Linked DNA regions of Homo sapiens. The protein of the gene in region 1 purifies or fractionates together with the protein of each later gene. This does not show direct contact. Each region holds a gene or a part of one and is shown on either strand. Other genes may lie near its edges.

Region 1 (3,500 bases):
TTTCCAGAAGTCTAGATGATGCCTTAAAACTTACTGAACAACCAGAATTAGCAAATAAAGTAGACATGGTCTGGATAGTTGGTGGCAGTTCTGTTTATAAGGTAAGTGTAGTTGTTGGTAAATAAAAACAAATGTTCTGTTCTACTTTCAGCTTCCTTGCCATTTAAAGGAAGTGGAAGAAACAGGTATAACTCATTGTCTGAACCTTTAAAAAATTAAGCCATGCGTATAGGAAGCAGCACATTATCTGTACTGTAAATTATTTGTTGTTAGTTGAAATTATTTGTTGTTTGATACTATACAAACTAAATAGAAATGCAAAAATAAATATTTTAGTCTGTATCAGCCTTTTTTATTTATTCATTTATTTTTGAGACAGGGTCTTGCTTTGTCACCCAGGCTAGTGTGCAGTGGCACTGTCTCACTGTAGCCTCGAGCTCCAAGGCCCAAGCAATCCTCCCACCTTTCCTCCCAAGTAGCTGGGATTATAGGCACACACCATCGTGCCCGGCTAATTTTTGTATATTTTGTAGAGTCAGGATTTTGCCATGTTGCCCAGGCCGGTCTTGAACTCCTGGGTTCAGGCAATTCACCTCCCAATGTGCTGGGATTACAGGTGTGAACCACCACACCCAGCCTATTTATCTTTTTAATTGGCAAATAATTGCATATATATATATATATATATATATATATATTATGTACAACATGTTGTTTTGAAATGTGTATACATTGTAGAATGGCTAAATGGAGCTAATTAACATGTATTACCCACTTATTTTGTGTGGTAAGAACACTTAAAGTCTACTCTCTTAGCAATTTTCAAGAATACATTTGTTATTAACTAAAATAATAGATGTTGTACAATAGATCTCTTGAACTTACTCCTCCTATGTAACTGAAATTTTGTATCCTGTGACCAACATCTCCCCAATACCAATCTACTTTCAAATCAAAGAATAATTGATGTTTCCAATTTAAAATCCATTCTAAATCTTTTCCTGAGAATTGTACTTGCATTGCACTGGTTTCTACTCCCTGAATGTACCCTAGATACACTGAGTTATGCCTTTGTCTTTCAGGATGAATATATCTCTTACTGAGAAAGGGTTGGGGCTCTCAGTTGATATACACTAACTAGATGTATATGAATTTATTACAAGTAGAAAACTTCTTCAACCAATTTTTTTTTGTTTTGTTTTTGTTTTTTTGAGATGGAGTCTCACTCTGTCAAGACTCAGTCGCCCAGGCTGGAGTGCAGTGACACGATCTTCGGCTCACTGCAAGCTCCACCTGCCAGATTGACGCCATTCTCCTGCCTCAGCCTCCTGAGTAGCTGGGACTACAGGCGCATGCCACCACACCTGGCTAATTTTTTTGTATTTTTAGTAGAGACGGGGTTTCACTGTGTTAGCCAGGATGGTCTCAATCTCCTGACCTGCTGATCCACGCACCTCGGCCTCCCAAAGTGTTGGGATTACAGGCGTGACCCACTGCGCCCGGCCAATATACCTCTTTTTTAATACCAAATGACTTCCAGCTTTAAAATTTTTGAGGATAACAAATAGAATTCTTTGCCTTTTAAAACACCAATGAAAAATTAACATTTATGAGGAGGAAGAAAAATCTAGTTTCTGCCATGTGGGTGGTCTTGTGGTAAGATATATACAGTGAAATTATTTTAGAAAGAAGAGGTAGGCCGACGCCTGTAATCCCAGCACTTTGGGAGGCCAAGGCGGGTGGATTGCTTGAGGTCAGGATCTAAAAACCAGCTGGGCCAAGATGGTGAAACTCCATCTCTCCTAAAAATACAAAAATTAGTTGTGTGTGGGCGCGGGCCCCTGTAGTCCCAGCTACTTGGGAGGCTGAGGTGGGAAAATCACTTGAACATGGGGGGCAGAGGTTGCAGTAAGCTGAGATCGTGCCACTGCACTCCAGCCTGGGTAACAGAGTGAGACTCTGTCTCAAAAAAAAAAAAAAAAAAAAAAAAAACTCTCAGTTTCTTGGGCTCCTGTTTCTAGAACCTCTTATGTTCCCCATTTGTAATAGAAGAAAAGGGACATTTTTTCTTGATATTTTTATCCAAGTATGAATTTCTTCTAAGAAAACAAGTTATTTATTTTGTTCAGTGCCTACCACACTTTGAATGATTCATTACCATAGTCACTTGAAAATGTATTCTTTAAGCAATATAAGTACGTAAATGCCTTTATATAATATGATAAATCTACATATAGATAAATAGGAAGTAGAACCTTCGAATGGTATTTTTACACCTGCCTCACATCACAACAGCTTGTAGATATCATTCAGGCTTATCTTCCTATGGGCCAAATCGGACCTCCCAGCCTGTTTTTGTAAAGAAAGTTTCAGTGGAACACAGACCCACCCATTCATTCAGTTCTGTCTGTGGCCTGCAAAGGTAGGAAACCCTATGGCCCTCAGAGCCTAAAATATTTACCATCACTCCTTTTACAGAAGGTTTGCCTTGTATAATCAACTTTTTTTTTCTTTTTTTTTGAGACGGAGTTTCGCTCTTTTTGCCCAGGCTGGAGCGCAATGGTGCAGTCTTGGCTCACCGCAACCTCCGCCTCCCGGGTTCAAGTGATTCTCCTGCCTCAGCCTCCCAAGTAGCTGGGATTACAGGCATGCGCCACCACGCCCAGCTAATTTTGTATTTTAAGTAGAGATGGAGTTTCTCCATGTTGGTCGGGCTGGTCTCAAACTCCTGACTTCAGGTGATCCACCTGCCTCGGCCTCCCAAAGTGCTGGGATTACAGACGTAAGCCACTGCAGCCGACTTATAATCAACTTTAATGCAGAACTTCACCACCACAGTCAATCTAATAATCCAGACAGCTCCTAAGTGACTAAGGGGCAGGTAACATAGACAGCATGTGCAGGACAAAGGGATAATTCACGCCCTAGGCAGGACAGAGCAGAATGGCTCAAGATTTCTTCACACTACTTAGAACAGCATGTCATTTAAATCTTATGAATTATTTCTGGAATTTTCCAGTTAATATTTTCAGACCACAGTTGACCATAGATAACAAACTGGAAAGTGAAACTGCAGATAAGGGGGGAGTCTGCATTCCACTTTTTAAATTTTTGGTACAGTAAGAATTAGTAGAGCATCTATTTGGTTGTAGCAAAGATAATAAATGATTTAATATAAAATGATATATTGAAAATAAAAAGTGAAATTTGTTCTGTACCCTTATTTGGAATTTTAAAAATAAACACTTGGATTTGTTGTGTGTGTGTGTGTGTGTGTGTATTTTTCTTTTCTATAAACTATTTGAGATCAAGAATTACTGCTTTGTTAGAATTGCAATTAAGACATACTTTTTATGAATGAGAATTTTAATACACTCATTCTAGGGCAACTTTTTCTGTAGAAATTATCAACCATATTTTAGGCAGTAGTTAGAAAAGTCATGTACAATATAAAGCCAAATGTTAATACAATTGTTAGCACCAAGAAGCAGAAAAATTAC
Region 2 (3,500 bases), on another chromosome or scaffold:
ATCACCCGCCTCAAACTGCTGCTCCAGGTAGGGCAGATGCTACCTTGATCCTCTCCCCTTAACTCAAAGGGATGCCCTCAGGAAGACCCACAACAAAGGACCAACCATTCTTCTGCCAGGTGTCCACATCCTGTCTCCCTGCTGCCCACTGCCTGCTTGCTTGGAAATATTTGCTGCTAAAATGTGGTCCCTGGGCTTCTCCATTCACCAGCCCCCAATCATTTCTTCCTGTTTCCCATTTCTTCCTCCCATCTCACTCCTGCCTACTGTCTGTTCAATAGAACATTCTGAAGAGAACACAGCCTGGCTCCTCGGAGGAGGCAGAGGCCACGAAGGCACACCACGCCCTGGAGCAGGTAGGCAGCCACCACCTCCACTCTGACCCTCTGTGTGTTCTTCTCAGAGAGGTCTTTCCCACCTAGGCCCATGACTCCAGGGAGCATGGGAGGTGGGACCCTGTTGGGAGAGCTCAGCCACCTCCCTGCATCCGCCAAACTTCCAAACATACACACCCCACGGCCACCTCTCCCACGCCGAGCACACTCCACATCAAGGGACTGTGCCCTCTCCACCATCACCCCCCCATTCAGTCTCACTTTTACTCAGTTCAGGAATGTTCTGCCAAGTCATACAAAGTTGCCTAGGACTTGTGCTTGATACTGCCTGCCCAATTCCAGCCTGGGAAAAATGACTGAGGCTGTCATAACCTATTTCCAGATTGCTTGCAAGGGACTCAAAGGTCAAAGCCTCTAACACAGTGCCCTTCCCCTTTCCTCACTCTCTGCACCCCTAGCTGATCCGGGACTGCAATAACAATGTCCAGAGTATGCGACGGACAGAGGAACTAATCTACCTGAGCCAGAAGATTGAGTTTGAGTGCAAAGTGAGTCGGTCCCATGCACCCCATCCCTGCCCATGAACTCCCTTAACATGTCCTGCAGATCACCCCCTAACCTGGAACCACCTTGCTCACATTATCCCCAGCCCCTCCCCTCATTTCTGCCCACCTTCTATTCTGTCCTATTTCTGGGAGGCCTACTTGGGTCTCCAAGACATACTGCTAAGTGAAATGATGAAGGTAAAGAATTGTGTGTATATTATATCACCTTTGGTATAAAAGTGGGAGGATACAAATCTATACAGGTGTCTGCTTGTGTGTGCATAAGGAAACTCTGGAAGGAGAACAAGAAAAAAAGGAACAGTGGTTACCTGAGGACAAGGGGGGTGCATTTGAGAAATGGGCAAATGAGAGAGAACTTTTCAGGATGAGCCTTTATAAAAGAATGTTTTGGTGCTTGATTCATTTATTACTTTATCAAATCTCTTTCTAGTCTAATCAAACCCACATAAGATTGGATCCAAATTTAGAGCCAGCATCCCTCATTGAAATACAAATCTAAAATAGACATTCCACATTCAAATTCCAACTTAGAACAGATACTATCTTTTTTTTTTTTTTGACAGAGTCTCACTCTGTCGCCCCAGGCTAGAGTGCAGTGGTGCGATCTTGGCTCACTGCAACCTCCACCTCCCAGGTTCAAGCGATTCTCATGCCTTGGCCTCCCGAGTAGCTGGGATTCCAGGTCTGCACCACCATGTCTGGCTAATTTTAGTATTTTTAGTAGAGATGGGGTTTCACCATGTTGGCCAAGCTGATCTCCAACTCGTAGCCTCAAGTGATCCACCCACCTCTGCCTTCCAAAGTGCTGGGATTATAGGCGTGAGCCACCACGCTCGTGCTTAGAACACATACTATCTTTACACTCCTGAAAAAGAAGGAAAATCCCTTATTCACATACTAAGCATAGACCACACCCTCATCTTTAACCAAATTCCAGCTCCAAGACGCCCCACCTAGTTCTTCTCACCCCCATGTTTGATTCCAGCTGCTCACATATCTCTGGTATAAAAAATGGAATTGATACCAGACCTGCCTCTAATATTTTATTTTAACCTCTAAGACACATATAGTGTTCACTGACTTGTTCCATCACATACCCTGATTGGACTCTTCCATCCCTCCTTCAGTTCAGGCTTCTAGGGCAGAGCTGTCCCACACACTCACTATCCTGAGTTGGACCATAGGCATCTTCTATTTACCTGAGCATACAACCATGGGAGCCACACACCAGTGGACAGTGGTAGTTAGAGGGTTCAGAGAGAAAGAGAATCTAAGTGATGGGTTATGAGCCAGAAGGCAGATGTGGAAGAGATGCTTGTTCAAGTGGAACTTGCATGGAAGTGGCATGGGGAGGAGGGTGGGACTGGGAGCAAACCTCATGCTTCTCCCATCTGTGACACTGCCTTCTCTCTCTTCCTCTGCCCTGTAGATATTCCCGCTCATTTCTCAGTCACGCTGGCTGGTGAAAAGTGGGGAGCTGACAGCCTTGGAGTTCAGTGCTTCCCCAGGGCTACGAAGGAAGCTGAACACGCGTCCAGTCCACCTGCACCTCTTCAATGACTGTCTGCTGCTGTCTCGGCCCCGAGAGTCAGTGACTGGAGTGGCAGGCCAGGGCACAAGAGGGGAAGGGGATGAGGAAAGAGGGGGGTCTGAAAGGGAGAGAGAAGGGTCATGTTCCTAGAAGAGCCCTTCTCAATGGCTTAACCCATAGAGCCCAGGTCATAGCCTAGAGAAGAGAAAAACAAGCCCAAAGCAAAAAGGGGATCCCATCAAACTGTATCATGAGACCACATAGCAGGACATGTAATATGGTATAGACACAGAGCAAAATGTAGCAAATTAGCTTATCACATTCTCACATGAGTCTATTTGTGGCTTCTTTGGACTGGCCTCAACCTGCTATTCTAGAGATACTTAGCTAATTCCAGAGCTTAAGTCTCTGGTCTTAAGGTTCTTGGGAAATGTATATAAATTCCATCTCTTCACCTCTTTAAAGTGGTAATGTATCCACTGCACTAGGTGTGTGGTTTGCCAGACTAGGACAAATCCCTGAGGACCCTGGAGCTACCATCTTGGGAGCAAGTTAGGACCATCTTATGGTTTTTGTGGGAATTTGCAGGCTGTAGATGTAGGGATTTCGAACCCAAGGTTATGAGGGTAGGTGAAGTATGGAAACTCTAGAATCAGGTTGAAAAGATTTGTATTTTGCAGGGGTAGCCGATTCCTGGTATTTGACCATGCTCCCTTCTCCTCCATTCGGGGGGAAAAGTGTGAAATGAAGCTACATGGACCTCACAAAAACCTGTTCCGACTCTTTCTGCGGCAGAACACTCAGGGCGCCCAGGCCGAGTTCCTCTTCCGCACGGAGACTCAGTGAGATGGGGCTGGGCAGAGGAGCTGGGGGTGGGGGAAGATGGGCAGCCGAGAAAAGAAGTGAGACCAAGGCAGAAAATGTGTCCAGAAGACAGCCACAGCCTCATTTAGCCCATTCTGGACTGGGGACCACCATAGAGAAATTCAGACTCCTAAAACTAATGGATAACTTGCAGGAGATTGGGGTGGGAGAGGGTACAAAGTCACCACCGAGGCTTAGCATCTA
Region 3 (3,500 bases), on another chromosome or scaffold:
GGGTACAGTGGCTCATACCTGTAATCCAGGCACTTTGGGTGGCTGAGGAGGGCAGATCACCAGAGGTCAGGAGTTCACAACCAGCCTGGCCAACATGGTGAAGCCCCGTCTCTATTAAAAATACGAAAATATTAGCCGGATGTGGTGGTGCGCACCTGTAATCCCAGCTACTCAGGAGGCTAAGGCAGGAGAATCGCTTGAACCCAGGAGCCAGATGTTGCAGTGAGCCAAGACCATGCCATTGCACTCCAACCTGGGCAACAAGAACGAAACTCCGTCTCAAAAAAAAAGCCTCAGCTCAAGAAGCCCCTCCATAGACCTCCCTGCCCTCTTTCCCACCAGGACACGTGAATCCTTTGCTCTGAGAGTCTGGATATACTGGAAGGATGTTCTAACGTAGGAAACTGTTTGTTAGAATATACACGTAACGTGTACTGCACATGGTTCACTTTAATAAATTGCCCAAGATGACCAAGGGGGCTTTCAGCTAAAACTCAAGTATAAATTAGGGATTGCGTGAGCATCCACGTGACAATTTTTCATAACACTGTCAAGGCACAGACCCAGAGTATGTAGCCTCCATGAGAACAATGGCCATTACTCTATTGATCTTTGATGCATTTCCTGTACCTGACAGCTGATCTGAATACTGTGGCTTCCTGCTACCACTTCTCAAGTTTGAGTAGATAAAAACTGAAGGATGGAGCAGTTTCTTAAACAGCTTGGGACTTTAGGTCCATCTGTCTCTGACCCCAGCAGTAGCTGTCACCTGATGTCACCCTAACAGGCTCCATCCTCTGTCCTTCGTGTCCCACTTTTAATCTCTCGTTCTGTGTAAGCAGAAGTGGGGAGAAAAAAAATCCACAAGATGCTTTTAAAGAAACCAAGAAATGTGACATTTTTCAGTTCTGGGTGGTGAATACATAATGTCTGTCTAGATAGGGACCACAATCCCTACCTAAAATGCTTAGGGCCAGATATGTTTTGGAATTCAGATTCTTTTTAATTCTGGGAAGGTAGTCAAGTACCCATACTACATATTTTGTAAAACCCCCCAGCAGGGTCAGCACCCCGTAATCAATTCTGTTAATGAATATTCAGAATGAGATCCTGTCATTTGCGGCCACATGGTTGAACCTGGAGGACACGTTAAGTGAAATGAGCCAGGCGCAGAAAGACAAATACCATATAATCTCATTCACGTGGAATCTAGACAAGTTGATCTCATAGAGGTTGAGAGTAGAATGCTAGATACCAGAGGCTGGGGGTGGTGGAAGGGGAGGTGAGTCTGGGGAGAGGTTGCTCAACAGGTACAAAGTTAGGAGAAATAAGCTCTGGTGTTCTATTGCACAGTAAGGTTACTATAGCTAATGATAATGTATATTTCAAGATGGCTAGAAGCCAAGGATTCTGAATGATATCTCTGCAAAGAAATGACAAGTTTATAGCCTGGGCAACACAGGGAGACTGTCTCTACTAAAATAAAATTAACTGGGCATGGTCACGCATGCCTCTGGTCCCAGCTACTCAGGAGGCCGAGACAGGAGGATTGCTTGAGCCTGGGAGGTGGAGGCTGCAGTGAGCCAAGATTGTGCCCCTACAATCCAGCCTGGGTGACAAAGCTAGACCCTATCTCAAAATTATCGCACCGTACCCCATAGATATGAACAAGTATGTGTCAGTTATAAACTAAAACTTAAAGTATCTCACATAATTGCAAATAGGAAAGTTCTGATGTTTTTGTGTCATTCATGTTGGAGATGTAGTCATCCACCCATGATGTGAGCAACCTCTTGGCTGAATCAGATTGCAATCAAGCATTTAAAAAAAAATAAGGCCAGGTGCCGTGGCTCATGCTTGTAATCCTGGCACTTTGGAAGGTCAAGGCGGGATGGAACACCTGAGGTTAGGAGTTGGAGACCAGCCTGGTCAACATGGTGAAACCCCGTCTCTACAAAAAATACAAACAGTTAGCCAGGTGTGGTGGTGCGTGCTACTTGTGAGGCTGAGGCAGGAGAATCGCTTGAAGGCAGAGGTTGCAGTGAGCTGAGATCGTGCTGCTGCACTCTAGCCTGGGTGACAGAGCTAGACCCTGTCTTAAAAAATAATAAAAATGAAAAATACATACACATGACTATTCACACCAAAAGGATAAGTTACAATTATAAATAGTCTCACATCACCTTCATTCAGGTTTTGGCAAAAGTGTTTTTAGAGCTTTTTGGATTTTGGAAAAAGGGATTACAGATCAGTATTATCCCTTGTACACTTACTTAAATTCTGTAAATCACTCTCCCTCCAAAAAAGTTGTAAGCTGTTTTTAAAGTAATTCCCTAAATAGTCATGAGGTAAAACTGTCATGGGGAGAAGAAAGCAAATGAAATCCCACAGGTTTTTAATTTCCACAAGACAAATTCATGGAAACTGGAAGAGGTGCTGGGTGCGGTGGCTCACACCTATAATCCCAGCATTTTAGGAGGTCCAGGCAGGAGGACGGCTTGAGCCTAGAAGTTGGAGACCAGCCTGGACAACATGGCAAGACGTAATATCTATAAAATTATTAAAAAATTAGCTGGGCATGATGGCATACCTGTAGTCCCAGCTAGGACAGGAGGATCCCTTGAACCCAGGAGTAATAAGCTATGATTGTGCCACTGCACTCCAGCCTGGATAACAGAGCAAGACTGCCACAAAAAAAAAAAAAAAAAAAAAAAAAAAAAATTTGAAAAGAGGGCAGCTTATTTTGTGGCATACTGGGAACAGGCTAAGAAGGAACAGGATTCCGTGAGGCAGGACTTCCTGCCTGTAAGTGCTGTAAGATATGGCAAGAGCTTGCATGATAAGCAACGGTGTCTCCTCTGGAATTTGTCAAAACAAAAAGAGGTTTTGTTTCAGTAATGATCTTCACTCTCTAGAGAAGGTTAAGGTTATTTTTCAGGTTATTTTTCCCCTTAATCAAAGATACTTTTTGCTTTTTTTTCCTGGCCTAGTCCAGATTCGGGTGCAGCCAAAACTACTATTTTTTTTTTCCAGTTACAGTCCTCTGCTGCTTAAAATTCTTACCTCCATTGTCAATCAGCCAGCGGTTCTGGCTGCCCATGGGGTCTTTTTTCTTAATCACACCCACCAGGTCACCTTCCAAAAGTGAGACATCCAAGTCTTGAGCAGCATTGAAGTTCCGTTCTGCCTGGAAGAGTTTTTCAGGGGGATACCTGGCCAGGAGGGAGGCCCGGAGTTCTTCTGACTGTAGCATGTAACTTGGCTGAAAGGTAAGACGTTAACAAAAATCTCTCAGTGGCCACTACCCCAGCAGCCATATTTCATCCCAACATGTGGCCAGTCTCAGAAATGAGGCAGGGACAGTCAGTCACTGCCCATCTCACTCCCATCAGATGTTTTTGTGATGAAGCCAGCCCATGTGGCTAGGTAAAAATCAAGAGCCCTTAGGCAATGTTTGATGCCTTTATAGTTAAGAAAATTTAACACACACCTATTCTTAC
Region 4 (3,500 bases), on another chromosome or scaffold:
AACCCGGCCCCATTCTTCCTTCACATCTGAATAGCTTCATTGATGAGAACCCCTCGGGATTACCTATAGGGGAGGCTTTAGGTAAGTTCTATTACTGCCAGATGTGAAAATTCAGAGATTACTTAACATGACTTGGACTGTATAATATCATTTTGGGTTAAGATTGAATTGTTTCTTCAAATAATGCTAGCAAAACCCCCCCATTTAGTGTGATAATCAGAAACTAGTTCTAAATGCTGTATGATAGTATCCAGTGGATGTCAGGATCATCATTATGTAAGTGAGGAAGAGTTGTCATCATCATCACCATAACTGATTTCTGGCAAATTTAGAAAACATTTACTTCTTACCAAAACCAAATTTGTAGCTACGTCCTTTGTCTTTGTGGAGAAAATATGTTAGTAAAAAACTTTAAATAATGAACTTGAAACCCCAAATTCATAAAAAATTTTTCACAAATATTTTTGCAGATCGTATACATGGGAGTGTCGCTCTGGAAACATTAAGGCAGCAGCAGGCACGGTTCCAGCAGTGGAGCGAGCATCATGCCTTTCTCAGTCAGGGCAGCGCTCCATACCCACACCATCACCATCCTCACCTCCAGCATCTTCCTCAGCCGCCCCTGGGATTACATCAGCCGCCAGTGAGGGCAGACTGGAAGCTCACCAGCAGTGCCGAAGATGAAGTGGAGACCACATACTCAAGGTATTCCAGCGGACTGAAAATAGCCCCTGGAATGCGACCCCCTCACTGTTCTCTTTTTTGACTGTAGTCCTTTTAGCTTCAAGCTGGAATATTGCCTCAGAGAAATTGGATGCTGGCCTTCCAAGCACACGCTACACAGTTCTCTTGTTGACTCTAAAATACAGAAAACTCATTTAGAAGTAACTCTTCTACAAATTTAGGCATGGATGATCTACTATGGGTTGGAAATTAACTTGTTCCCTTACTTTGTGGTCTTTTCTGCGAGAGAAACATACCATCACTGTGAGCAGCTTTTTTTATTTAGTAGTAATACTTGCAAAGAATGAATAAAGACAGGAGTAAATTCGTGGTTAAAAGCTAAAAATTATATCATTAATTATTTTTATGGTGGCACAGAATTCTACATTCCTATAATTCCAGCTACATATGAGTATTTGGTCCTAACTCTAAGCTTGTTTTTGTGGCCAGTGTCACATGAATGCTCTGAAGTGTTTCCTAATCCCTTCTGAATAAGGTCCACCATCATGGTGACCTTTTATAACTTCCAGTTGTCAAAGCTGTATAGAGACAAGGACAGATGTTTTTAATACAATGGGAACAGAAAGAAATCAGGTAATTGAGCATATTTAATTTCTTCACCTCAGCATCTATTGAGTGTTAATGCTTACATCTGAGATGAATTAATGCCAGTTCTAGTTATTAGTACTATGATTTTGTTTGTTGAAAATACATGTGTAGTTGACTAAGCTTTCCTTAATGTGATGGAGCCTTTTGTTTTCTCCTCATATTTTATTGTTTTCATGTAGGTTTCAAGACTTAATCAGAGAACTGTCTCATCGTGATCAAAGTGAAACACGGGAACTAGCTGAAATGCCACCACCTCAATCAAGACTTTTGCAATATAGACAAGTACAGAGTAGAAGCCCACCAGCAGTCCCATCTCCCCCATCCAGTACAGACCACAGTAGCCACTTTTCTAACTTTAATGATAACAGCAGAGACATTGAAGTAGCCAGCAACCCAGCATTTCCACAGCGCCTCCCACCCCAGATATTCAACTCACCTTTCTCGTTGCCATCTGAACACCTTGCCCCTCCTCCCTTGAAATACCTGGCACCTGATGGAGCATGGACTTTTGCTAACTTGCAACAGAATCACCTAATGGGGCCAGGTTTTCCCTATGGCCTACCTCCATTGCCTCACAGGCCACCGCAGAACCCTTTTGTACAAATACAGAATCATCAACATGCTATTGGTCAAGAGCCATTTCACCCATTGTCATCTCGAACAGTATCTTCTTCTTCGCTCCCTAGCTTAGAAGAGGTAAATGTCTTCTTATTTTCCTTTTGTTATTAGCTGATTGTGAAAAATATCAGTATTTATTGATTTGATAATAGGAAGGCACAGATCTTATTGAATTTAACAGCGTATTAAAGATAATCCTTTCTTGGGAATTATTTTAATTGCCACCCTCCTATTGTATTTCAGGTTTTGTAAAGTGGACACTTTTGTTGAAACATGAAGCCCCTTAAAAGTCTTTTATTGCTGTTTAAAGAAAATATTGAATATCTGAGGACTCTATTCAAGGAGCTTTGTCTTTTTTTAATCTGAGGAAATGGCTTTTAGTGATTCTTCTTTTCGCTTTAAGTTACATGTGTTAATTATAAATTTGTTAATGAGAACTTTCCAAAGATGCTGGCTTTTCAGCCAGTGCCAGCTCCAAGTGCTGTGCTCCTTCTCCTGCCACTCAGCCTGGTGCTTTGTTAGACCCAGGGACTCTGATTCCCAAATATCAGAATTTGCAGATTTTTAACATAAAATTGACTGTGCTAAACTAAGCATTTTAAGTTAAACTGAATTTTATCTTAAAATACTTAGATATTTCTGCCGGGTGCAGTGGCTCACGCTTGTAATCCCAGCACTTGGGGAGGCCGAGGCGGGCAGATCACGAGGTCAGGAGATCGAGACCATCCTGGCTAACACGGTGAAACCCCGTCTCTACTAAAAATAGAAAAAATTAGCTGGGCGTGGTGGCGGGCGCCTGTAGTCCCAGCTACTCGGGAGGCTGAGGCAGGAGAATGGCGTGAACCCGGGAGGCTGAGCTTGCAGTGAGCCAAGATATGCCACTGCACTCCAGCGTGGGCGACAGAGCAAGACTCTGTCTCAAAAAAAAAAATAAATAAATAAAGTAAAATACTTAGATATTTCTAAAGAGCATCTTTATGGACTTTTTTTTCCTATGAAAAACTTAGTAATTCCAGGTTATAAAACTTCCAAAGCAGTACCATGTGGTGTAGGCTACAAAAATGTCTAGCTGATCCCATTAAATTTGCAGTGATTAAAGATAAAAATGTGTAAAGCCGGTTGTAGTCATATCAGACAGAGACATCTTAAATCAGGATAAAGATTTCTAATTTTGATATATGAAAAATACTTTTTTGATATTAGCTTCATTTTGGCAGTTTCAGAATGATATCTAAAGGCCATTAGAAATAATTGATTCACATTTTACAAGTTGCCTGCTATAGATGCTAATTAAAAGTCAAGATTCATAGGGAAAGCTGTATGTCTTATTTGTAGGGATTTAGAGGCAGTCTGTTCAAATTGTCCCAGTATTCATTGATTGGCTCATTCTGTATAGCTGTCATTAAAACAACTTACTGTGATTTTAGGCTCTTAAAGTAAGTTAGAAGCACAATAAAGATGAATTGGTATCTACATATATGTATTGTGAGGATCTAGAATTTTGGAACCATACTTTACAAAAATTTGGCACACATCTGACAGTCTTTCAG
Region 5 (3,500 bases), on another chromosome or scaffold:
CCCATTTCGGCCTCCCAAAGTGCTGGGATTACAGGAGTGAGCCACTGTGCCCAGCTAACATTTTTAAATGGTTGAAAAAAATCAAAAGAATATTTTGCGAAATGTGAAAATTATATGAAATCCAAATTTCAGAGTCCATAACTAAAAGTTAAAACACAGCTATACTCATTCTGTGGTTGTTTCTGTACTACAACAGCATAGTGACAGATATGGCAGAGTGCGCAAAACCTAAAATAGTATGTGGCCCTTTACATAAAAAGTTTGCCTCTGCTATAACAGTGTCCTTGGAGTCCTGACCATGGGCATGAAATATATGAGACCCGAAAATATGGAACTGACTGTAAGCTCTCTCCTCTGGGGAAGGGTGAGTCATAACCCCCTTTTGGATTCCTGATGTCTGTTAAATTCAGTGGGCATTCACTGAATGGCTGCCACCTCCATGACATGAGGCAAGAATGGCATGTAATACACCTGTATATTTGGGAGTTCTGGCTGATCACTTCTAAAGGGTCAGGGCTCACACCAAAACCAGTGCTTACTGGGTGACCATTTTCTATTCATTCATGCAACAAATGTCTACCTGGGCACCTTACCTTAGTCGGTTCAGGCTGTTATAACAAAAACACCACAGACTAAGTGGCTTAAACAACAGAAATTTACTCAGTTCTGAAGGCTGGAATGTCCAAAATCAAGGTGCTGGTCAATTTGGTTCCTGGCGGGGGCCCTCTTCCTGGTTTGCAAAGGAATGCCTTTTTGCTGTATCCTCATAGGTGGAAGGGGAGATCATCTCTCCAGGGTCTCTTTTTATAAAGGCACTAATCCCATTCGTGAAGGCTCCACCCTCATGAGTTAATTACCTCCCAAAGGCCCCACCTCTAAATATCATCACACTGGGAGCTGGCACTTCAACATACGAATTTTTCAGGAACACAAACACTAGTTTATAGCATGTCTCCTTTGTGCCAGATACTGTTGCAGGAGCTGAGGATACACACAGTCCTTAGGGAGCTTACCCTCTGGTTAGCAGGAAATAGGATGGAGACTCCCCTGCAATGAGGACTGTGTGAGGCAGTGGGAGAGGGAGACGGAATGCCACTGTGATATCACAAGCACAATACTGGACTTGCCTTGAAGGAACTTACTAATTGGAAAGCCATGAAAAGTTAAATTCCCATAACTTAAAGAGTTAAATAATGCTTCAAGACTGAGCAGATGCCCTAGGGCAGAACAGCTTAGAAGAACCAAACAGCAAAGGAGGCTGGTTCACCACATCTATTTTGCACTGAAAACAATATGATTACCCAAGCCGACAAATGTTTGTCATTAAGAGAAATTTCAACACCAGGGAATGTGCATTCCCACAAAAGTGGTTAAGAATAGGGGTACACAGCTATTCAGTTACGTGTGGCTCAGAAACCAGTACACATGTCTATTTAGCACCAAGCACCTACGGAGGGAGGAATTCATTTGCTGACGGTCTGATGACGCTCTCTTGCTCCAAAGTCTGCAGAGATCTGGAAGATCAAGGCTGTTTAAGCTTCACCCTCGGTCAGTCACATGCTCTCCTTCCCCTAAGTGCCTCAGATTCCAGTAAAGCTCTGTGAGAAGCCTCCAGCACCCCTACACACAGAGAGAGACGCACACAGGAAGCATCAGCCTCTGCTAGACCCTTGCAGCAGTTTCCAGACATGTCCAGCAAAAGGTACTAGGCATCCTGGTAAAGAACTGGGCAGTAAAATGTTCCCTTGTGATACCCACTATCCAAAAAGGACAGATATTAAATGCAATAGAAGGAAAGACTACTACTACGCCTTATCCGATCCCCAACAAAGTCAAAAAAAAGCAGACTTGTCAGAACAGACAATACAATTAGATACTACACATTTTAGACATTCACTATTCCTGGAGCCTCTACTTTCAGAGAGGGTCTGAGTCTAGCTTCATGATGTTGGCAAAATCACATCCCCTCTCTAGCCTCTATTACCTCATAAGGCACCAGATCAAATCCCTAAGTTTGGGAATAGAGGAGTTTCCCAAGAAATTCCTATATCAGCTTTCATTAAGACTTACATAGAAAAACATTTTGAAAAAGCCCAACAAAACCACAGCTTCTCCAGAGAGAGCTGAAAGACACTTTTAAATAAGAAAAACATATGATAATAGAATAAGAAAAGTGCTGATTTTTCTTTACTTTTTAACCCTCTGTGATAAGAAATGGTATTTGTAAAATTATATACCACTAGCTGAAGTCTGAGCAGGGCTAAATCCTAACTTAAAATCCTTAGAAATCAGGGTCTCCTCTATGGCTGGGCAGCCCTAAAGTGAAACATTAAGGCTTAAGGGAATCAGTTCTTGCATTTGAAAGACGAAAAGGAAGATAAATTGGTAATTTCCATACTTACACCATAAAGATTTTACTCCTACAGCTCAAAAGAAATAACTGTACAATGAAATTTAATTTTCTTAAAACACACGCCTGGCTGGGTGCGGTGGCTCATATCTGTAACCCCAGCACTTTGAGAGGCAGAGGCAGGTGGATCACGAGGTCAGGAGTTCGAGACCAGCCTGGCCAATATGGTGAAACCCCGTCTCTACTAAAAATACAAAAATTAGCTGGGAGCGGTGGCACGCGCCTATAGTCCCTCAGCTCGGAAGGCTGAGGCAGGAGAATTGCTTGAACCCGGGAGCCAGAGGTTGCAGTTAGCAGAGACTGTGCCACTGCACTCCAGCCTGGGCGACACAGCAAGACTCTGTTTCAAAAAAAAAAAGGGAGCAGGGTTTTAGAGTCGGGGTGTTTTTTGCTTGTTTGTTTGTTTGTTTGTTTGTTTTTAAGGTGGAGTCTCACTCTGTCGCTCAGGCTGGAGTGCAGTGGTGTGATCTCGGCTCACTGCAACCTCCGCCTCCCGGGTTCATGCAATTCTCCTGCCTCAGCCTCGCGAGCAGCTGGGACTACAGCGTGCGCCACCATGCCCAGCCAATTTTTGTATTTTTAGTAGAGATGGGGTTTCACCATATTGGCCAGGCTGGTCTCGAACTCCTGACCTCAAGTGATCCACTCGCCTCGGCCTCCCAAAGTGCTGGGATTACAGGCATGAGCCACCACGCCCGGCCTTCTCCTCCCTTCTTCCAGAAAGCCTTGCCTGATTTCCATTCCCATTGTTGTATACAGCCAACACTCGGTACTATCTTATTCTGTGACCAATTTAATTTTACATGTCAAAATATTCCTCCATTGTCAGTAACCCAAAGGAAAATGTATTTCCTTTCTTTAAAAAAAGAAATATTCTGAACCTACAAAAAGATGGATAGCATAATAGGACAAACACTGATATACCTATGACCCAGTCCAAGAAATAAAACACTGCAAAACAGGAGAAGCCCTGAGGCACCCATTCCCAATCACATCCTCCCTCTTCCCATCACAGGCAACCACTACCTGGAAACCAGAGCTCATCAGCCCCATAAAGCTCTTCCCCTCGCGAAAGAGCATACATCCTTAT
Region 6 (3,500 bases), on another chromosome or scaffold:
CAGAGTCTTGCTCTGTCACCCAGGCTGGAGTGCAGTGGTACAATCTCACTGCAGCCTCCGCCTCCCAGGTTCAAGTGATTCTCCTGCCTTAGCCTCCCAAGTAGCTGGGATTACAGGCGCCTACCACCACGTCTGGCTAATTTTTGTATTTTTAGTAGAGACAGGGTTTCACCATGTTGGCCAGGCTGGTCTCAAACTGCTGACCTCAAATGAACTGTCTGCCTCAGCCTCACAAAGTACTGGGATTACAGGCATGAGCCACCTCACCTGGTGGTGAAGACTCTAAAGGCTCTTCTCAGATCAGCCTTTGTCCTGAATTTCACATGCCCGTGTCCAGTTCCCTCCCCAGCATCTTTTCAGGAGTTCCATGGACTCACCTCTTCATTATCCAGGGTTAAGCTGCAGATATTGTTATTAGGATTCCACCTTGTTCTCTCTCTTTTTTTTTTTTTTTTTGATACGGAGTCTCGCTTGCTCTTTTGCCAGGCTGAAGTGCAGTGGAGCGATCTTGGCTCACTGCAATCTCCGCCTCCTGGGTTCAAGCAATTCCCTTGCCTCAGCCTCGCAAGTAGCTGGGACTTACAGGTAACACACCACCATGCCCGGCTAATTTTTTGTTTTAGTAGAGACGGGGCTTCACCATGTTGGCCGGGATGGTCTCGATCTCCTGACCTCATGATCCGCCTGCCTTGGCCTCCCAAAGTGTTGGGTTACAGGCATGAGCCACCATGCCCGGCTGATTCCACCTTGTTCTTACATTCTTTCCCAGTTCATTTTAAATTTATCTACCTCATCAGAAACTAGGGGGTTAGGCCTGGCAGGCAGATCACCTGAGGTTGGGAGTTCGAGACCAGCCTGACCAACGTAGAGAAACCCTGTCTGTACTAAAAATACAAAATTAGCCAGGTATGGTGGCACATTCCTGTAATCCCAGCTACTCCGGAGGCCGAGGCAGGAGAATCACTTGAACCCAGGAGGCGGAGGTTGCAGTGAGCCGACATCACACCATTGCATTCCAGCCTGGGCAACAAGAGCAAAACTACATCTCAAAAAAAAAGAAAAACTAGGCAGTTAATCCTCAAAGCCTTTCCAGTGGCCTTATGCGTGAGTAGTTTGTGTGTGTGTGTGTGTGTGTGTGTGTGTGTGTGTGTCTTTCACACCATGTGTTCTGAACTACTTAGGAATTCTCACCAGAAAGGCACATAAACCTGGGATCATGGCCTAATGTACTTTCACTTTTACATCCAGTACCTTATCAACGTCCTTTTTAGTACCTAATCTAGGCTTCACTACTGAGACTCAGGGGTCCAACTTGAGCCATCTTGGAGTCCCACTGCCAGCACAGCAACAGGCCTGTAATGCCGCCCTTTTTCTCCAGGGATAACACGGAAAGAACGACCACCTCTAGACGTGGACGAAATGCTGGAGCGCTTCAAAACAGAAGCACAAGGTGGGTGTCAGGACCTCCAATGTTGGAGTCAGCTGAGGAAGCCCCCCGTTCTTGCTGCTATCTCCTGTTCCTTTGAAGAACCCCATCTCTCTCCAATCTTTTCCTCCACTATTCTTAATGTGCCCACTGTCTCCTGGAGAATGCCAACCTCCCTTCCGTAAGAATAGAGGGAAGAACGAACGTTGCAGAGAATTAGAACTCAGTTTGTAGAAAGTTAGGAGCACAGCGCAGAGAGTTTTTGTTTTTGTTTTTGTTTTGAGACAGTTTCTCTGTTGGCCAGGTTGGAATGCAATGGCGCGATCTCGGCTCACTGTAACCTCCACCTCCCAGGTTCAAGCGATTCTCCTGATTCTCCTGACTCAGCCTCCTGAGTAGCTGGGATTATAGGCACCTGCCACCACACCCAGCTAATTTTTTTTTTTTTTTTTGAGACGAAGTCTTGTTCTTGTCACCCAGGCTGGAGTATAGTGGCACCATCCCTGTTCACTGCAACCTCCGCCTCCCAGATTCAAGTGATTGTCCTGTCTCAGCCTCCTGAGTAGCTGGGACTACAGGTGCATGCCACCACGCCCAGCTAATTTTTTTTTGTACTTTTAGTAGAGACAGGTTTCACCATCTCATTCAGGGTGGTCTCAAACTCCTGACCTCAAGAGATCTGCTCCACCCACCCCCAAGTCTCCCGAAGTGCTGGGATTACAGGCGAGAGCCACCGTACCCGGCCTTCTTTAAATTATTTAAAAGTTGACAGGTGGCCAGGTGTGGTGGCTCTCACCTATAATCTCCCAGCACTTTGGGAGGCTGAGGCGGGTGGATCAAGAGATCGAGACCATCCTGGCCAACATGGTGAAACCCAACTCTACTAAAAACACAAAAATTAGCCGGGTGTGGTGGCACCCGCCTGTAGTCCCAGCTACTCAGGAGGCTGAGGCAGGAGAATCGCTTGAACCCGGGAGGTGGAGGTTGCAGTGAGCCAAGATTGTGCCACTGCACTCCAGCCTGGCAACAGTGCGAGACTCCATCTTAAAAAAAAAAAAAAAAAATTGACAGGCATAAATGTATTTATGGTACATTGCTCAGACAACTTTAATATAAACAACTTACAGAGAAAATTGAGTCTTTTGGGTAGGTGACTTGCCTGAGCTGACTTTGTGATAGGTTTTTTCTGTTTTTTTTGTTTTTGAAATAGAGTCTCACTCTGTCATGCAGGCTGGAGTGCAGTGGCCCCATCTTGGCTCACTGCAATCTCTGCCTCCTGGGTTCAAGGGGTCTTCCTGCCACAGCCTCCCCAGGTGCTGGGACTATAGGTGCCCACCACTATGCCTGGCTAACTTTTGTGTTTTTAGTACAGATGGGGTTTCAACAGGGTAGCCAGGTTGGTCTAGAACTCCTGACCTCAAGTGATCCACCTACCTCGGTCTCCTAAAGTGCTGGGATTACAGCTGTGAACCACCGCACCTAGCCTGTGATCAGTTTCAGATCAGCCTTGCTTACTCCACATTCCCTCTTATCTTCCTGGTAGCATTTTTGTTTTTTCTTGAGAAAGAGTTTTGCCCTTGTCGCCCAGGCTAGAGTGCAATGGTGTGATCTCGGCTCGCCACAACCTCCACCTCCCAGGTTCAAGTGATTCTGCCTCAGCCTCCCGAGTAGCTGGGATCATAGGCGCCCACCACCACATCTGGCTAATTTTTGCATTTGTTAGTTTTATTTTTAGTAGACAGGGTTTCACCATGTTGGGCAGGCTGGTCTTGAACTCCTGACCTCAGGTGATCCACCCACTTCGGCCTCCCAAAGTGCTGGGATTACAGGCATGAGCCACCGTACCTAGCCCACATTGACTTTTGATACAGCAAGTATTTCTTGCTATGGCTCTGTATAATAGAGGTGAGTAACTTGGTTGAAGGAATTGTTTGCCCTGTTCATCTCTCTAGACACGGCCAATGTCATTCCTGGCACACAATCTTTTTTTTTCTTGAGATGGAGTCTCACTCTGTTGCCCAGACTGGAGTGCAGTGGTGCAATCTTGGCCCACTGCAACCTCTGCTACCCAGGT
Region 7 (3,500 bases), on another chromosome or scaffold:
AAAAATGAGAATTTCCCTTTTTACCTTTTCTCTCCCTCAACACAAAATACCTATCCTTTCCCACTCCTCGCATTGTAGTTACATCACAATTTTTGGTTAAATCAATATTCTGTGTCTTTCGGTGATTGTGATGGACTATAAAGTTGAAAGAACCATACTATGGACACTCATACACCCACAATCTAGATTCGATGATTAACCTTAACATTTGGCTATAATTGCTTCATGACGTCTATCCATCTTTCACTTCATTTTAGTTTTTAAATCACTTCAAAGTGAGTTGCAAATGGGAGTCATTTGACCCCTAAATACTTTAGCACGTATTTCATCAACTAGAGCTATCATTTGTGTATGGTTATTCTTTTCATATAAAATTTACATATCATAAAATCACCGGTCTGCACCATTCAGTGGATTTTGACCAGGGTTTGGCAAACTTTCTAAGGGAGCAGATAGCAAATATTTTTGGCTTTGCAGGGGTTATAGTCCCTGAGGAAACTTAATGAGAACTTTTTATACAATGGTCCCTGTCACAGCTACTCAGCTGTGCTGTTGTAGCATGTTAGCAGCCATAGACAATACTTAAATTCATAGGTATGTCTGTGTTCCAATAAATTTTTTTTTTTTACCAAAACAGGTGGTGGGCTGTATTTGACCTGCAGGATGCATGATGTGATTTGTCCAATCTTTGTCAGTTACATACATCTGTGTAACCTAAACTCTTACCAAGATATAGAGAAATTACTATCAGCGTGGAAAGTTTTCTCATGCCCTTTTGTAATTAATCTCTGCCCCCGTGCCCTAGTGACAACCACTGTTTCTTTTTCATCTGAGATTAGCTTTGCCCATGTTTGAGTGTCAAATAATGGAATCATGCAATATGTGCATTTTGGTGAAACACTTTTACTTAGCATAATCTGGAGATTGAATTATGTTGCATATACTGGTGATTTGTTGCTTTTTGTTGCTGGGTAGTATTCCATTGTATAAATTTGCCTCACTTTATCCATTTTCCTGTTGATGAATACCTGGGCTATTTTTGTTTTTTTTTTGTTTTTGTTTTTGTTTTTTTAAGACAGGGTTTTGCTCTGTTGCTCAGGCTGGAATGCAGTGGATCAATCATGGCTCATTGCAGTGTTGACCTCCCAGCTCAAACAGTTCTCCCAGCTCAGATTCCTGAGTAGCTAGGACACACAGGCCCGGGCCACCACACCTGGGTAATGTGTTCTGGTTTAGAGATGGAGTCTCACTTTGTCACCCAGGCTGGTCTTGAACTCCTGGGCTCCAAGTGATCCTCCCGCCATGGCCTCTCAAAGTGCTGCCACCATGCCTGGCTTAGTTCTAGTTTTTGGTTATAATAAAATAATTTGACCATTGTGAACCTTCTTCTACAAGACTTTTTGTGGACATATGTTTTCATTTCTCTTGTCTAAATACGTAAGTATGGAATTGCAGCGTCATAGGGTAGGTACCTGATTGGTTTTTTAGGGAAACTCATGGGAACTTTTCCCAAGATGGTGAACCTTTTTGCACACCCCCCAGTGATGCATTAGTAATCTGCTTGCTCTATTCAAGATTTGGCTTATCAATCTTTTATACTTTTTTTTTGAGACAGTCTTGCTCTGTCACCCAGGCTGGAGTGCAGTGGTGTGATCTTGGCTCACTGAAACCTCCCCGCCTCCCAGGTTTAAGGGATTCTTGTGCCTCAGCCTCCTGAGTAGCTGGGATTACAGGCATGCACCACCACACCTGGCTAACTTTTGTAATTTTAGTAGAGACAGGATTTTGCCATGTTGGCCAGGCTGGTCTTGAACTTCTAGTCTCAAGTAATCTGCCCACCTCGGCCTCCCAAAGTGCTGGGATTATAGATGTGAGCCACTGCGCTGCTAGCTTGTCAGTCTTTAAAATTTTAGCCGTTCTGGTGGGTGTGTACGATTTTTCATTTGCTTTTAATTTTAATTTTCATTTTCTGATAATTATGTTGAGCAGTCTTTCATGTACGATTGTTATTATTAGCTATTTGTATATTTTCCTTTGTGGGGTCCTCTGATTATCTTTTATGTAGATTTTTTTTCTTGGAGTTTATAATTTCACTGCCTTGGTTTTTAGTTTACTTAATTTTGTATGTATTCATCAGTAAATTATCTCCAGACTTTTAAACATAGCTCCAGAACTCTTCTAAAGAAGTTTAAACACCACAGGGAGTTTAGCTTATAAAGGTTTTATGTAAGGTAACAGTATACTTAGTTGTTTTGCTTTATATTTCTTTTGAAATAATAATTTTAAAAATATTTAATTTTTAATGGATTCAAGTTTTATCACTTTTTCCCTTTGTGATTTGTACTTCAGAAATTTAAGGAGTTATTCCTACCTTAAGGTCAAAAAGAGAATTCTGTGTCTTTTTTAAATTTAAAAATTTTTCTTTTACATTTAAGTATTTGAGATACCTATTAGATTGCCAGTCAGACTCACAAGAATCAGAGGTCTTACCCAGTGTTAATCTTTAAAAATTGAAACAGTTTAAGTGATCATGAGGCATAGGTGAAATATGAAGTCCAAGACTGCCAGATCTCTGAGTCCTTCCTTGCCTCTTTAGAGTGTGTTCTGTCCCAGACTTAACCTGTGAGGTTTCTAAGTGATGTATACAGTCACATAAACAGAAGAGTGCTCTGCAAACATCTTGATTCTATGCTCTTAACAGGTAAATTAATATAACATTTTTCAGAAAGCTGTACCATTAGATCTGTAGAATCTCGGCTTGTTTACTGTAATCCTATATACTTCGGGGACATTCATCTAAAAGCATTACTTAGATGAGGGCTCTCCCACTGGCAAATACCATTGATGTTTTTTCTGGAGGTTTGTCATTACCATATTTAAAGGATGATTTGACTGGACCACCTTTTCCCTACCTCCAACCCTCTCTCTCCCTGCTTCATTTCTTTTTAATGTTTAATCTGTATAAGTGGTATGATATAGGCATTCAGGGTATTTTTTTTTTAAAATGTGAATTACCATACTGTTTTCATATATGTATGGATGTTTGAATTCTCTATAGTTTTCCTTTGATCTCTGTGTCTGTCTTTCTACTTGTAAATTTAATGCATTTTAAATAAAATGTTTGAAATAAATTACTTCTCATTTAAAAATTGTCAAGAAAGTTATCAAAATAATCTGATATTATCTATTTAAAATGTTATTTATTTCAATAGACTGAACCTCCATTGAATACTCCAGAAAACAGGGAATATACTGCTGAAATAATGTTTGAGTCCTTCAATGTTCCAGGCTTGTACATTGCTGTGCAGGTAAGCAAGTTCATACTTTCTAAGTTTGATTCTTACATTTTAACCTAGTTTAATTTGCTGCCTAAAATACGTACTTTTTTTTTTTTTCTGCAAAGGTTTAAACATAATGTCAAAGCATGTTATACTTCTCTCCTGAATTGTTAATTTAGAAGTAATATTATGGGAAGTGGAGATATTTAGTCAGGAAAAGAG

The links.
Region 2: the proteins of DHFR (region 1) and ARHGEF5 purify together in Homo sapiens (affinity purification with mass spectrometry; one large-scale study listed by BioGRID and IntAct). This does not show direct contact.
Region 3: the proteins of DHFR (region 1) and DNMBP purify together in Homo sapiens (affinity purification with mass spectrometry; one large-scale study listed by BioGRID and IntAct). This does not show direct contact.
Region 4: the proteins of DHFR (region 1) and HELZ purify together in Homo sapiens (affinity purification with mass spectrometry; one large-scale study listed by BioGRID and IntAct). This does not show direct contact.
Region 5: the proteins of DHFR (region 1) and TBC1D2B purify together in Homo sapiens (affinity purification with mass spectrometry; one large-scale study listed by BioGRID and IntAct). This does not show direct contact.
Region 6: the proteins of DHFR (region 1) and NLRP2 purify together in Homo sapiens (affinity purification with mass spectrometry; one large-scale study listed by BioGRID and IntAct). This does not show direct contact.
Region 7: the proteins of DHFR (region 1) and ACTR3 fractionate together in Homo sapiens (co-fractionation; one large-scale study listed by BioGRID). This does not show direct contact.

Annotation. Positions count from the first base shown.
Region 1 is NC_000005.10:80,634,484-80,637,983, reverse strand, and holds part of DHFR (dihydrofolate reductase), read left to right. Parts: coding exon 1-101; intron 102-3,500.
Region 2 is NC_000007.14:144,372,402-144,375,901, forward strand, and holds part of ARHGEF5 (rho guanine nucleotide exchange factor 5), read left to right. Parts: coding exon 1-27; intron 28-281; coding exon 282-356; intron 357-793; coding exon 794-883; intron 884-2,330; coding exon 2,331-2,488; intron 2,489-3,112; coding exon 3,113-3,274; intron 3,275-3,500. UniProt on the Homo sapiens protein: Guanine nucleotide exchange factor which activates Rho GTPases. Strongly activates RHOA. Also strongly activates RHOB, weakly activates RHOC and RHOG and shows no effect on RHOD, RHOV, RHOQ or RAC1.
Region 3 is NC_000010.11:99,880,948-99,884,447, forward strand, and holds part of DNMBP (dynamin-binding protein), read right to left. Parts: intron 3,263-3,500; coding exon 3,064-3,262; intron 254-3,063; exon of another isoform or gene 156-253; intron 1-155. UniProt on the Homo sapiens protein: Plays a critical role as a guanine nucleotide exchange factor (GEF) for CDC42 in several intracellular processes associated with the actin and microtubule cytoskeleton.
Region 4 is NC_000017.11:67,105,697-67,109,196, reverse strand, and holds part of HELZ (probable helicase with zinc finger domain), read left to right. Parts: coding exon 1-81; intron 82-470; coding exon 471-705; intron 706-1,511; coding exon 1,512-2,028; intron 2,029-3,500. UniProt on the Homo sapiens protein: May act as a helicase that plays a role in RNA metabolism in multiple tissues and organs within the developing embryo.
Region 5 is NC_000015.10:78,071,212-78,074,711, forward strand, and holds part of TBC1D2B (TBC1 domain family member 2B), read right to left. Parts: intron 1-3,500. UniProt on the Homo sapiens protein: GTPase-activating protein that plays a role in the early steps of endocytosis.
Region 6 is NC_000019.10:54,976,374-54,979,873, forward strand, and holds part of NLRP2 (NACHT, LRR and PYD domains-containing protein 2), read left to right. Parts: intron 1-1,378; coding exon 1,379-1,450; intron 1,451-3,500. UniProt on the Homo sapiens protein: Suppresses TNF- and CD40-induced NFKB1 activity at the level of the IKK complex, by inhibiting NFKBIA degradation induced by TNF. When associated with PYCARD, activates CASP1, leading to the secretion of mature pro-inflammatory cytokine IL1B.
Region 7 is NC_000002.12:113,928,089-113,931,588, forward strand, and holds part of ACTR3 (actin-related protein 3), read left to right. Parts: intron 1-3,212; coding exon 3,213-3,308; intron 3,309-3,500. UniProt on the Homo sapiens protein: ATP-binding component of the Arp2/3 complex, a multiprotein complex that mediates actin polymerization upon stimulation by nucleation-promoting factor (NPF).